Linked DNA regions of Homo sapiens. The protein of the gene in region 2 purifies or fractionates together with the protein of the main gene of each other region. This does not show direct contact. Each region holds a gene or a part of one and is shown on either strand. Other genes may lie near its edges.

Region 1 (3,654 bases), about 49 Mb from region 2:
TAGGAAAAAGATTTGGCAGTACCTAAACACATATATTCTATGACCCAGTAATTCCTTTTCTGAGCATTCATTTTCAGAGAAATGAATAAGTTATATTTAAATGAAAAAATAAATTATAAGTAAGAATGAAAAGCACTTTAGTTAAGCCCCCAGTCATGTTTAGCATTAATTTTGAAAATGTATACTTTTCCATTAGATCAAACTAAGTTATTATTTATTTATTTATTTTATTTATTTTGAGACAGAGTCTCACTCTGTTGCTGAGGCTGGAGTGCAATGGCACAATCTTGGCTCACTGCAACCTCTGCCTCCTGGGTTCAAGCGATTCTCGTGCCTCAGCCTGCAAGTAGCTGCGATTACAGGCGCATACCACCATGCCTGGCTAATTTTTGTGTTTTTAGTAGAGACAGTGTTCCACTATATTGGCCAGGCTGGTCTCAAACTACTGACCTCAAGTGATCTGCCTGCCTCGGCCTCCCAAAGTGCTTGGATTACAGGCATGAGCCACTGCGCCTGGCCTATTATTATAATGTCATAATGCAGTAGTTCTCAAAGTAGAGTCCCCAGACCAGCAGCATCAACGTGATCTAGTAACTTGTTAGAAATGGACATTTTTGTGCCTTCTTTTTTTGGACACATTTGTGTCCAAACCTACTGAATCAGAAACCTTGGGGTTAGGGTGTAGTAATATGTAGTTTAACAAGCCCTCCAGGTGATTCTGAAACATAAAGTGGAGAACTCCTACTATACTGAACATACTTTAGGAATTCCTGTTGCCTTCTAAAGCACTATTTCTTTAATTTTCAGCTTCTCCAATTTGGGAAATACCTGCTATATGAATGCTATTCTACAATCTCTATTTTCACTCCAGTCATTTGCAAATGACTTGCTTAAACAAGGTATCCCATGGAAGAAAATTCCACTCAATGCACTTATCAGGTAATCATTATGTACTGTACTTACTGAGTAACCTTTTACTTCATTGATTATAGAATAATGGAATTTTAGACACTCAAAAATTTTCTGTGCCATTATTAGTAATTATTCTTTAAAATATCACGCCATGTCATGTAAAACGTGCTAACTTTGTGTTTTTTGTTTTACTAGACGCTTTGCACACTTGCTTGTTAAAAAAGATATCTGTAATTCAGAGACCAAAAAGGATTTACTCAAGAAGGTTAAAAATGCCATTTCAGCTACAGCAGAGAGATTCTCTGGTTATATGCAGAATGTGAGTATTAATTGTTTTAAAACGTTTCAGAGGCCTGACACGGTGGCTCACGTCTGTAATTCCAGCACTTTGGGAGGCCTAGGTGGGCAGGTCACCTGAGGTCACTGAGGTCAGGAGTTTGAGACCAGCCTGGCCAACATGGCGAAACCCTGTGTCTACTAAAAATACAAAAATTAGCCAGGCGTGGTGGCATGCGCCTGTAATCCCAGCTTCTCGGGAGCCTGAGGCAGGAGAATTGCTTGAACCCGGGAGGCAGAGGTTGTAGTGAGCCAAGATCATACCACTGCACTATAGCCTGGGTGACAGAGCAAGACTCCATCTCAAAAAATAAATAAATAAATATTTATAAAAATAAATAAAATAGGCCAGGTGCGGTGGCTCACGCCTATAATCCCAGCACTTTGGGAGGCCACGGTGGGTGGATCATGAGGTCAGGAGTTTGAGACCAGCCTGGCCAACATGGTGAAACCCTGTCTCTACTAAAGATTAAAAAAAATTAGCCGGGCATGGTGGCACATGCCTGTAATCCCAGCTACTCAGGAAGCTGAGGCCGGAGAATCTCTTGAACCTGGGAGGCAGAGGTTGCAGTGAGCTGAGATCGCACCATTGCACTCCAACCTGGGCTACAGGGCAAGACTCTGTCTCAAAAAAATAAAAATAAAACAAATAAATAACGTGTAAGAAATCATGGAAATTGACATGATTTTAGTGTGTTTCTTGATTTTTATTTTAAAACGAGATTTGTGTATGTGTGTTCATTATAGATTGAAAAACCTGAGGAGAGGCTGGGTGCGGTAGCTCATGCCTGTAATCCCAGCACTTTGAGAGGCCGAGGCGGGTGGATCATCTGAGGTCAGGAGTTCCAGACCAGCCTGACTGATGAGGTGAAACCCCATCTCTACTAAAAATACAAAAAAATTAGCCAGGCGTGATGTCGCATGTCTGTAATCCCAGCTACTTGGGAGGCTGATGCAGGATAATCGGTTGAACCCTGGAGGCAGAGGTTGCAGTGAGCCGAGATTGTGCCATTGTACTCCAGCCTGTGTGACAAGAGCGAAAATCTGTCTCAAAGAAAGAAAGAAAGAAAGAAAAACCTAAGGAGCTGTAGTAAGATTAAATGTGACTCTTCAAATATAGATTTGATTTACCAGTGCAAGGACCTGGGCTGTGTTACCTGCGAAAATTACCTCTTTTAACAAAGTGAGGAGTTATTCATTGATTCATGTCAGTGCAACTGATATAATTATTAAGAATATATAATCTGTCATTTGTTTTTATTCACAAAATATGCAGCTCCCCAAATTCTTATAAGAATAAACCTGACATTGTTCACATATGTCATTGACTTTCAAGGGTTTTCACTGTATAAATTATAATGTTAATAAGCTATTATTTTTTGTTTGTTTTGTTTTTTGTTGTTGGTTTTTTTTTCTTTTCTTTTGAGACGGAATCTTGCTCTGTCACCCAAACTGGAATATAATGGTGCGATCTTGGCTCACTGTAACCTCTGCCTCCCAGGTTCAAGAAATTTTTCTGCCTCAGCCTCCCAAGTAGCTGGGATTACAGGGACTGCCACCACACCTGGCTAATTTTTGTATTTTTAATAAAGATGGCATTTCACCATGTTGGCCGGGCTGGTCTCGAACTCCTGACCTCAAGTGATCCGCCTGCCTCAGCCTTCCAGAGTGCTGGAATTACAGGTATGAGGCACAACACCCAGCCTCAGTAAGCTATTGTGACAAGAAATGTTTTTATCTGATTAAGGATATTGTTGTCTTATTAGGATGCTCATGAATTTTTAAGTCAGTGTTTGGACCAGCTGAAAGAAGATATGGAAAAATTAAATAAAACTTGGAAGACTGAACCTGTTTCTGGAGAAGAAAATTCACCAGATATTTCAGCTACCAGAGCATACACTTGCCCTGTTATTACTAATTTGGAGTTTGAGGTTCAGCACTCCATCATTTGTAAAGCGTAAGTAGTGTCTAAGAAATGATTTCCCTTTTTACTTCTTTATGGCAAGTGATTAAAATTCTTCTATGACATACCAAATGCCATGAATTCTTTTCTGTTTTTAAGACAGGGTCTCACACAGTTGCCTAGGCTCTTGGGTGCAGTGGCACAACCCCAGCTTATTGCAGCCTGGATCTCCTGGGATCAAGTGATCCTCCTACCTCAGCCTCCCGAGTAATGAATTTTTATCTCATCTTCCTTTCTACGTCATAGGGGAAATATAAACCAACAGATTATATCAAACCTTTTTTTCAGAGTCTTTTTCTATAGAAATGCTTGGGCTGGGCACAGTGGCTCATGCCTGTAATCCCAACAATTTGGGAGGATGAGGTGGGCAGATGGTTTGAGCCCAGGAGTTCAAGACCAGCCTGGGCAACATGGGGAAACCCCATCTCTACAAAATATATAAA
Region 2 (3,654 bases):
AGGCGTGAGCTACCGCGCCCGGCCCACTTTTTTTTTTCATTTGTTTGTTTTTGTTTTTTTGAGACTGAGTCTCCTCTGTCATCCAGGCTGAAGAACAGTGGTGCGATCTCGGCTCACTGCAACCTCTGCCTCTGGGACTCAAGCGATTCTCCCGCCTCAGTCTCCCAAGTAGCTGAGATTACACGTGTGCGCCACCATGCCTGGCTAATTTTTTATATTTTTAGTAGAGATGGGGTTTCACCATGTTGGCCAGGCTGGTCTTGAGCTCCAAACCTCAGGTGATCTGCCCACCTTGGCCTCCCAAAGTGCTAGGATTACAGGCGTGAGCCACCACACCTGGCCCCCAGCCCATGTTTTTAGCCATTGTGCTGCTATACAGTGTTCTGCCTGAGTCTGGAGTGACCAAATACCTGAGTGCTATTAGAAATTTTCAGTAAATCGCATAAATTAGGACAGTCTCAGGCTAAGTGTTCATTCTGCTTTTACTCCATTTCCAATCTATTACCAATCATGCACATTTTGCCACACTGTAAAGCATAGTTTATCTTCTCAGCACCTGCATGAAAATTTTGGTTGGGCGAATACATGTTGGCCCTTTTGGATATTAGGATTGAGATTTGTCTTACCTGCTATAATATCTATCTTGATTTTCCATTCTGCAGCTTTCTTTTGAACATGCTGAACATAAATAATATGTTGTTATGAGCTGATTTTTAAATAATGATTTTTTAAAATTGCTTTTTACTAATACTTGAGATTGAGTTTTTAAGCTTAAAATTTCATTAGAATCTAGACCCTTATAAAAATTTCAATTGAATGGATAGTATTCTGAAAATAATAAATCAATTTCAATACATTTAACAATCTGAACCAAATCACACAATAAATCCAAGTGATAGAAAGCTACTCATGCACCACATAATGCCATTTGGGGTTATCTAGGGACTGCATATATTTTGGTAGTCCCATAAAATTATAAATGGAGCTGAAAAATTGCTATTGCCTAATGATGTAGCTATCTTGACATCACAGCACAACACATTACCTTCTTGGTGTTTATATATGTTTAGATCAAAAGAATACCATTGTGTTACAATTGCCTGTAGTATTCAATACAGTAATAGGTTGACAGGTTTGTAGCCTAGGAACAACAGACTATAACCACAGAGCCTCGGTGGTCCACTCTATGTTTGCACAATGATGAAATCACCTCAGAATGCATTAGTCAGAACATATCCCTGTTGTTAAAGGATGCATGACTATTTCAGAAATCTATCAAAGATGTGTAATGTTCTCATATGGTTTCTGTAGCATTATTTCATTGATATATACAGCTAGCTAGCCTAGAAACCATTTGGCAGAGATATAGGTACATGGGGAATTCAGTTCATGCAGTAAAACTGAGTTTTATAAAATTCATGTTATGCCAAGACTATACTTTCAGGGATCATTTCTATAGTTCGTTACTAGAGAAGTTTCTCCGAAAGTGTAGAGCACTGTATCATGAAAATGGCCATACTACCCAAGGTAATTTATAGATTCAATGCTATCACCATCAAGCGACCACTGACTTTCTTCACAGAATTGGAAAAAACTACTTTAAATTTCATATGGAACCAAAAGAGCCCACATAGCCAAGACAATCCTAAGCAAAAAGAACAAAGCTGGAAGCACCATGCTACCTGACTTCAAACTATACTACAAAGCTACAGTAACCAAAATAGCATGGTACTGGTACCAAAACAGATATATAGACCAATGGAACAGAACAGAGGCCTCAGAAATAACACCACACATCTACAACCATCTGATCTTTGACAAACCTGACAAAAACAAGCAATGGGAAAAGGATTCCCTATTTAATAAATGGTGCTGGGAAAACTGGCTAGCCATATGCAGAAAACTGAAACTGGATCCGTTCCTTACACCTTACATGAAAATTAACTCAAGATGGATTAAAAATCTAAATGTAAGACCTAAAAACTCTAGAAGAAAACCTAGGCAATACCATTCAGGACATAGGCATGGGCAAAGATTTCATGACCAAAACACCAAAAGCAATGGCAACAAAGCCAAAATTGATAAATGGGATCTAATTAAACTAAAGAGCTTCTGCACAGCAAAAGAAACTATCATGAAAGTGAACAGGCAGCCTACAGAATGGGAGAACATTTTTGCAATCTATCCATCTGACAAAGGGCTAATATCCAGAATCTATAAACAACTGAAACAAATTTACAAGAAAAAAAAACCCATCAAAAAAGTGGGCAAAAGATATGAACAGACACTTCCCAAAAGAAGACATTTATGCAGCCAACAGACATATGAAAAAATGCTCATCATCAGTGGTCATCAGAGAAATGCAAATCAAAACCACAATGAGATACCATCTCATACCAGTTAGAATGGCAATCATTAAAAAGTCAGGAAACAACAGATGCTGGAGAGGATGTGGAGAAATAGGAATGCTTTTACACTGTTAGGAGTGTAAATTAGTTCAACCATTGTGGAAGACAGTGTGGAGATTCTTCAACGATCTAGAACTAGAAATACCATTTGACCCAGCCATCCCATGACTGGGTATATACCCAAAGGGTTATAAATCATGCTGCTATAAAGACACATGCACATGTATGTTTACTGCGGCACTATTCACAATAGCAAAGACTTGGAACCAACTCAAATGTCCATCGATAATAGACTGGATAAAGAAAATGTGGCACATATACACCATGGAATACTATGCAGCCATAAAAAAGGATGAGTTCATGGGATGAAGCTGGAAACCATCATTCTCAGCAAACTATCACAAGGACAGAAAACCAAACACCGCATGTTCTCACTCATAAGTGGGAGTTGAACAACGAGAACACATGGACACAGGGAGGGGAACATAACACACGGGGGCCTGTTGGGGGGTGGGGGGCTGGCGGAGAGATAGCATTAGGAGAAATACCTAATGTAAATGACAAGTTGATGGGTGCAGCAAACCAACATGGCACATGTCTACGTATGTAACCTGCATGTTGTGCACATGTACCCTAGAACTTAAAGTATAATTAAAAAAAAAATTCATGTTATGCCAAGCTGTGCAGAAAAGAGTTCACAGCAGGCCTGGCTGCTTATCCTTAGAAAGGCCTGCTTAGTTTGGCCCTTGTCTGGAGACTGGGAACTTAGATTTTGGGAAGCCTCCCACTCCCTACTCCCTTAATAATAGTGACTGACTGTGCCTAACACTGTTTATGCTGAACACCTGTTTTCCTACTGGGAGTCTAGAATTTGGGTATGTGTCAGAAAGGGAATTGCCTACATGATCAGTCCCTAATAAAAGCCCTGGGCACTGAGTCTCTAATGAGCTTCCCTGGTTGGCAATGTTTCACATGTGTTATCAATAATTCATGCTGGGAAAATTAATTGTGTCCTGTGTTATTCTACTGGCAGAAGACTCCAGAAGCCTGGCCCTGGTTTACCCCATTCTCTGCCTAATGCACCTTTCTCCTTGCTGATTTTGCTCTATATCCTTTCACTGTAATACATCATAGCCATGAATAAGACTAGATGCTGAGTCCTGTGAGATTTCCTAGTGAATCATCAAACCTGAGGGTGTTCTTGGGGACACAGGTTTGGATACCAATGTTTACTGGTGTTTGCTTT
Region 3 (3,654 bases), on a different chromosome or scaffold from region 2:
ATGTCAGCTGAAGCCTTATAAAAACCTGCCAGTTTCAGTGAAAATTTAATGCCCTTTTTGCTTTCTCTTGATTTATTGACCTTTCGTTTCCTTTTGTCTCATTAACTGATTTTTAAAACATCAGTAAGTCAGTGATTGGTTCCACAACTCTCATGCCCCTCTGCCCCCAAATGCAAACAGTATTTTTTTTTTTTTTTGAGACGGAGTCTCGCTCTGTTGCCCAGGCTGAAGTGCAGTGGCGCGATCTCTGCTCACTGCAAGCTCCGCCCCCCGGGTTCATGCCATTCTCCAGCCTCAGCCTCCTGAGTAGCTGGGACTACAGGTGCCCACCACCACGCCCGGCTGATGTTTCTGTATTTTTAGTAGAGACGGGGTTTCACAGTGTTCGCCAGGATGGTCTCGATCTCCTGACCTCATGATCCGCCCGCCTCGGTCTGCAAACAGTATTTTTAAGACTTACTGGCAAATAGCATCTTACCAGGCGAGATCTCTCCATGTGTTCTGTTTCATCAAAGAAATTAAATCAATAGTAAAATGAAGCAAGTACTTAACAAGGAAAATAATGCTGGTAATAGTAATAGCTAATGCTAATTGAGCATGCACTATGTGCCAGACTCGGTGCTCAGAACTTAACATAGCATTCTCTCAGTACTTACACAACTCCATGAAGTTTCTATGAGAAGGCTTATACTTGTTAAGTAATTCGTCCAAGGTCACCCAGTGAGGATATGGTACAGTTGGAATTGTATCTAGGCAGTTCTGACCCCAAGAGCCCAAGGCGCCCCTGGTCCTATCTCATAGTTGATGGGCCCATTGCCCTGGATCACAGACTTTCCACTACTCTTATAATGCCTTTTCTAGAACTCTCCTAATGTTTTAAACTTCCAGTCCTCCCTACAGTCTTTCTAAATAGATAATCTTCTTTTCTACTTGACTGAGCTCGCTGATGTCTAAAAAGAGCTCCCTGCCTTCTGTTTTGTCCCCCTCTCCCTACGCCATCTCATCTCTTTTCTCTTATTTCAGTGGAAAAGGTTCCCTTCCTTTTTCCCCCTTTCATTTCTTAGAGATAAACCTAGATTAATGGTTTTTACTAGGGAGAGATTTTGTAATCTAGGAAGCATTTGGCAATGTCTGGAGACTTTGATTGTGACTCTGGAGGGAGGATGCTACTGGAATGTAGTGCGTAGAAGCCGGGAATGCTGCTAAACATCCTGCAGTGTACAGGAGTAAGCCCCTCTAAACAGAGTTATGTGTAAATTGTATAAAATAGTGCTGAGCTTGACAAACTCTGATCTAGATGATGTCTCTCTTCTCTTTCTATTATGTCCCTTCTCCTTAGTCCTAGTCTAACCCCCAGACACCTTCACTGTCTTCTCCCTTGCTACTCACATTATGGTCCACAGACCAGCAGCATTCACATCCCCTAGGATTTAGACATGCAGAAAGTTGAGTGTGCTAGAGCCAGCTTGCTCTGCCTCTCCAGCTGATTTTGTACATCTCTTTCCAGCTCTGTGTTCAATGACCTCGTGTTGATAACTGTGCCAAGGTGGGAATATTTATACCAAGGAAACAAGCATACACTGCCAATCAGCATACCACTGCCTGTACCCCCACTCTAGACCTATTCAATCAGTTTCTGCCTTTTGACAAGATTCTTGGGTGATTCATTTGCATATTACATTTTGAATTTGCATTTTCCATTTTACCGTGCACTTGTCCTCTATCTTGAAACCAAATAACAACAACAAAAGTGTCTATTGCCCAGTCCAGCTGTTGTCTCCACCTTCCTCCTCTTGTTTGCTTTTGGAACAAAGTTTCTAACCCCACCTGTTTCATTTCTAAAACATTTTTCCAGTGACAATGTATTCAGACTCAATATACAAAACTTGGAAAAGACAGACTTGAGCAAGACTAACTCTTAGCTGACAGGAGATTGAGGAAGGTTGGTTCCCAGATTCTGCTACAGAGCTTAAGGTGGCAATAACAGCTTCTGCAAAAGCCAAATAATGAGATGGCCGTGTGGACCAGTCTGGGCTCCAGCAAATGGCTGATTGTTCAGAGGCCTGCAGAGGGACTGACTAGGCAGCAGCAGGTTAGGTTGAAAGGCAGTGAGTGGTTTTATGTAATCAGAATCTGCTCAGCAGCCTACTTTGCCAAGGCAGGATCTCTCCCTCTGTCACCCAGACTGGGGTGCAGCGATGTGATTATAGCTCACTTTGGCCTTGACCTCCTAGGCTCAAGCGATCCTCCCACCTCAGCCTCCTGAGTAGCTGGGACCACAGGCGTGCATCACCGCACTTGGCTGTTTTTTTAATTTTTTATAGAGACGAGGTCTTGCTATGTTGCCCAGGCTGGTCTTGAACTCCTGGGCTCAAGCAGTCCTCCTGCCTTGGCCTCCCAAAGTGTTGGGATTACAGGCATGAGCCACCACACCTGGCCCCCTCATACTTTTATTATTTTATGCTTTTATGATCCCTCATTACCACTTTTTTGCTGTTACTTTTTTCTTGTTTTGTTTTTTGAGACGGAGTTTCGCTCTTGTTGCCCAGGGTGGAGTGCATTGGCACGATCTTGGCTCACTGCATCCTCCGCCTCCTGGGTTCAAGTGATTCTCCTGCCTCAGCCTCCCGAGTGGCTGGGATTACAGGCATGCACCACCATGCCCAGCTAATTTTGTATTTTTAGTAGAGACAGGGTTTCTCCATGTTTGTCAGGTTGGTCTTGAACTCCTGACCCCAGGTGATCTGCCCACCTCAGCCTCCCAAAGTGCTGGGATTACAGGCGTGAACACCTGGCTCCAAATCTACATTTCTAATCCTGAGTTGCAAATGACTTCTATACTCTGTTTCCCAGTGCTTTTTGAACAGGTCTGCTTGAATATCAACCTCCTTGGCTATAAACGTTTGCTTCATACTTATTTTCCCAGGGTTGTTATACTAGGCATGGGAATGTACACTTGTATTACTCGTGTCTGCCATATGCTATGTACCACCCTAAGCACTTTTCCATACATTTTTATTTACAAAAACCCAGCAAGGTGTGAACTATTACCCTATTACTGATGAGGAAACTGAGATGTCTTGTTTGTTTTTTGAGATAGGGTTTCACTCTGTCACCCAAGCTGGAGTGTGGTGACACCGTCAAGGCTCACTGCAGCCTTGACCACCCAGACCCAAGCAATCCTCAGACACTTGAGTAGCTGGGACCACAGGTATGCACCACCACACCTGGCTACTTTTGTTTTATTTTATTTTTTGAGACGGACCGCAGTCTGTTGCCCAGGATGGAGTACAGTGGCGTGAGATCAGCTCACTGTAACCCCCGCCTTCCGGGTTCTATTGATTCTTCTGCCTCTGCCTCCCAAGTAGCTGGGATTACAGGCACATGCCACCACGCCTAATTTTTGTATTTTTAGTAGAGACGGGGTTTCACCATGTTGGCCAGGCTGGTCTTGAACACCTGACCTCCGGTGATCCGTCTGCCTTGGCCTCCCAAAGTGCTGGGATTATAGGCGTGAGCCACCGAACCCAGCCTGTGGTTAATTTTAAAAGTTTTTTTAGCAATGGGGTCTCTCTGTGTTGCCCAGGCTGGTCTCAAACTTATGAACCAAGTCATCCTGCCTCAGCCTCCAAAAGTGCTGGGATTACAGGCATG

What was found.
Region 1: the proteins of METTL5 (region 2) and USP37 purify together in Homo sapiens (affinity purification with mass spectrometry, with the first as the bait; one study listed by BioGRID). This does not show direct contact.
Region 3: the proteins of METTL5 (region 2) and USP28 purify together in Homo sapiens (affinity purification with mass spectrometry, with the first as the bait; one study listed by BioGRID). This does not show direct contact.

Annotation. Positions count from the first base shown.
Region 1 is NC_000002.12:218,495,311-218,498,964, reverse strand, and holds part of USP37 (ubiquitin carboxyl-terminal hydrolase 37), read left to right. Parts: intron 1-807; coding exon 808-939; intron 940-1,107; coding exon 1,108-1,231; intron 1,232-3,014; coding exon 3,015-3,205; intron 3,206-3,654. UniProt on the Homo sapiens protein: Deubiquitinase that plays a role in different processes including cell cycle regulation, DNA replication or DNA damage response.
Region 2 is NC_000002.12:169,814,851-169,818,504, forward strand, and holds part of METTL5 (rRNA N(6)-adenosine-methyltransferase METTL5), read right to left. Parts: intron 1,529-3,654; exon of another isoform or gene 1,429-1,528; intron 679-1,428; coding exon 627-678; intron 1-626. UniProt on the Homo sapiens protein: Catalytic subunit of a heterodimer with TRMT112, which specifically methylates the 6th position of adenine in position 1832 of 18S rRNA.
Region 3 is NC_000011.10:113,869,030-113,872,683, reverse strand, and holds part of USP28 (ubiquitin carboxyl-terminal hydrolase 28), read left to right. Parts: intron 1-3,654. UniProt on the Homo sapiens protein: Deubiquitinase involved in DNA damage response checkpoint and MYC proto-oncogene stability. Involved in DNA damage induced apoptosis by specifically deubiquitinating proteins of the DNA damage pathway such as CLSPN.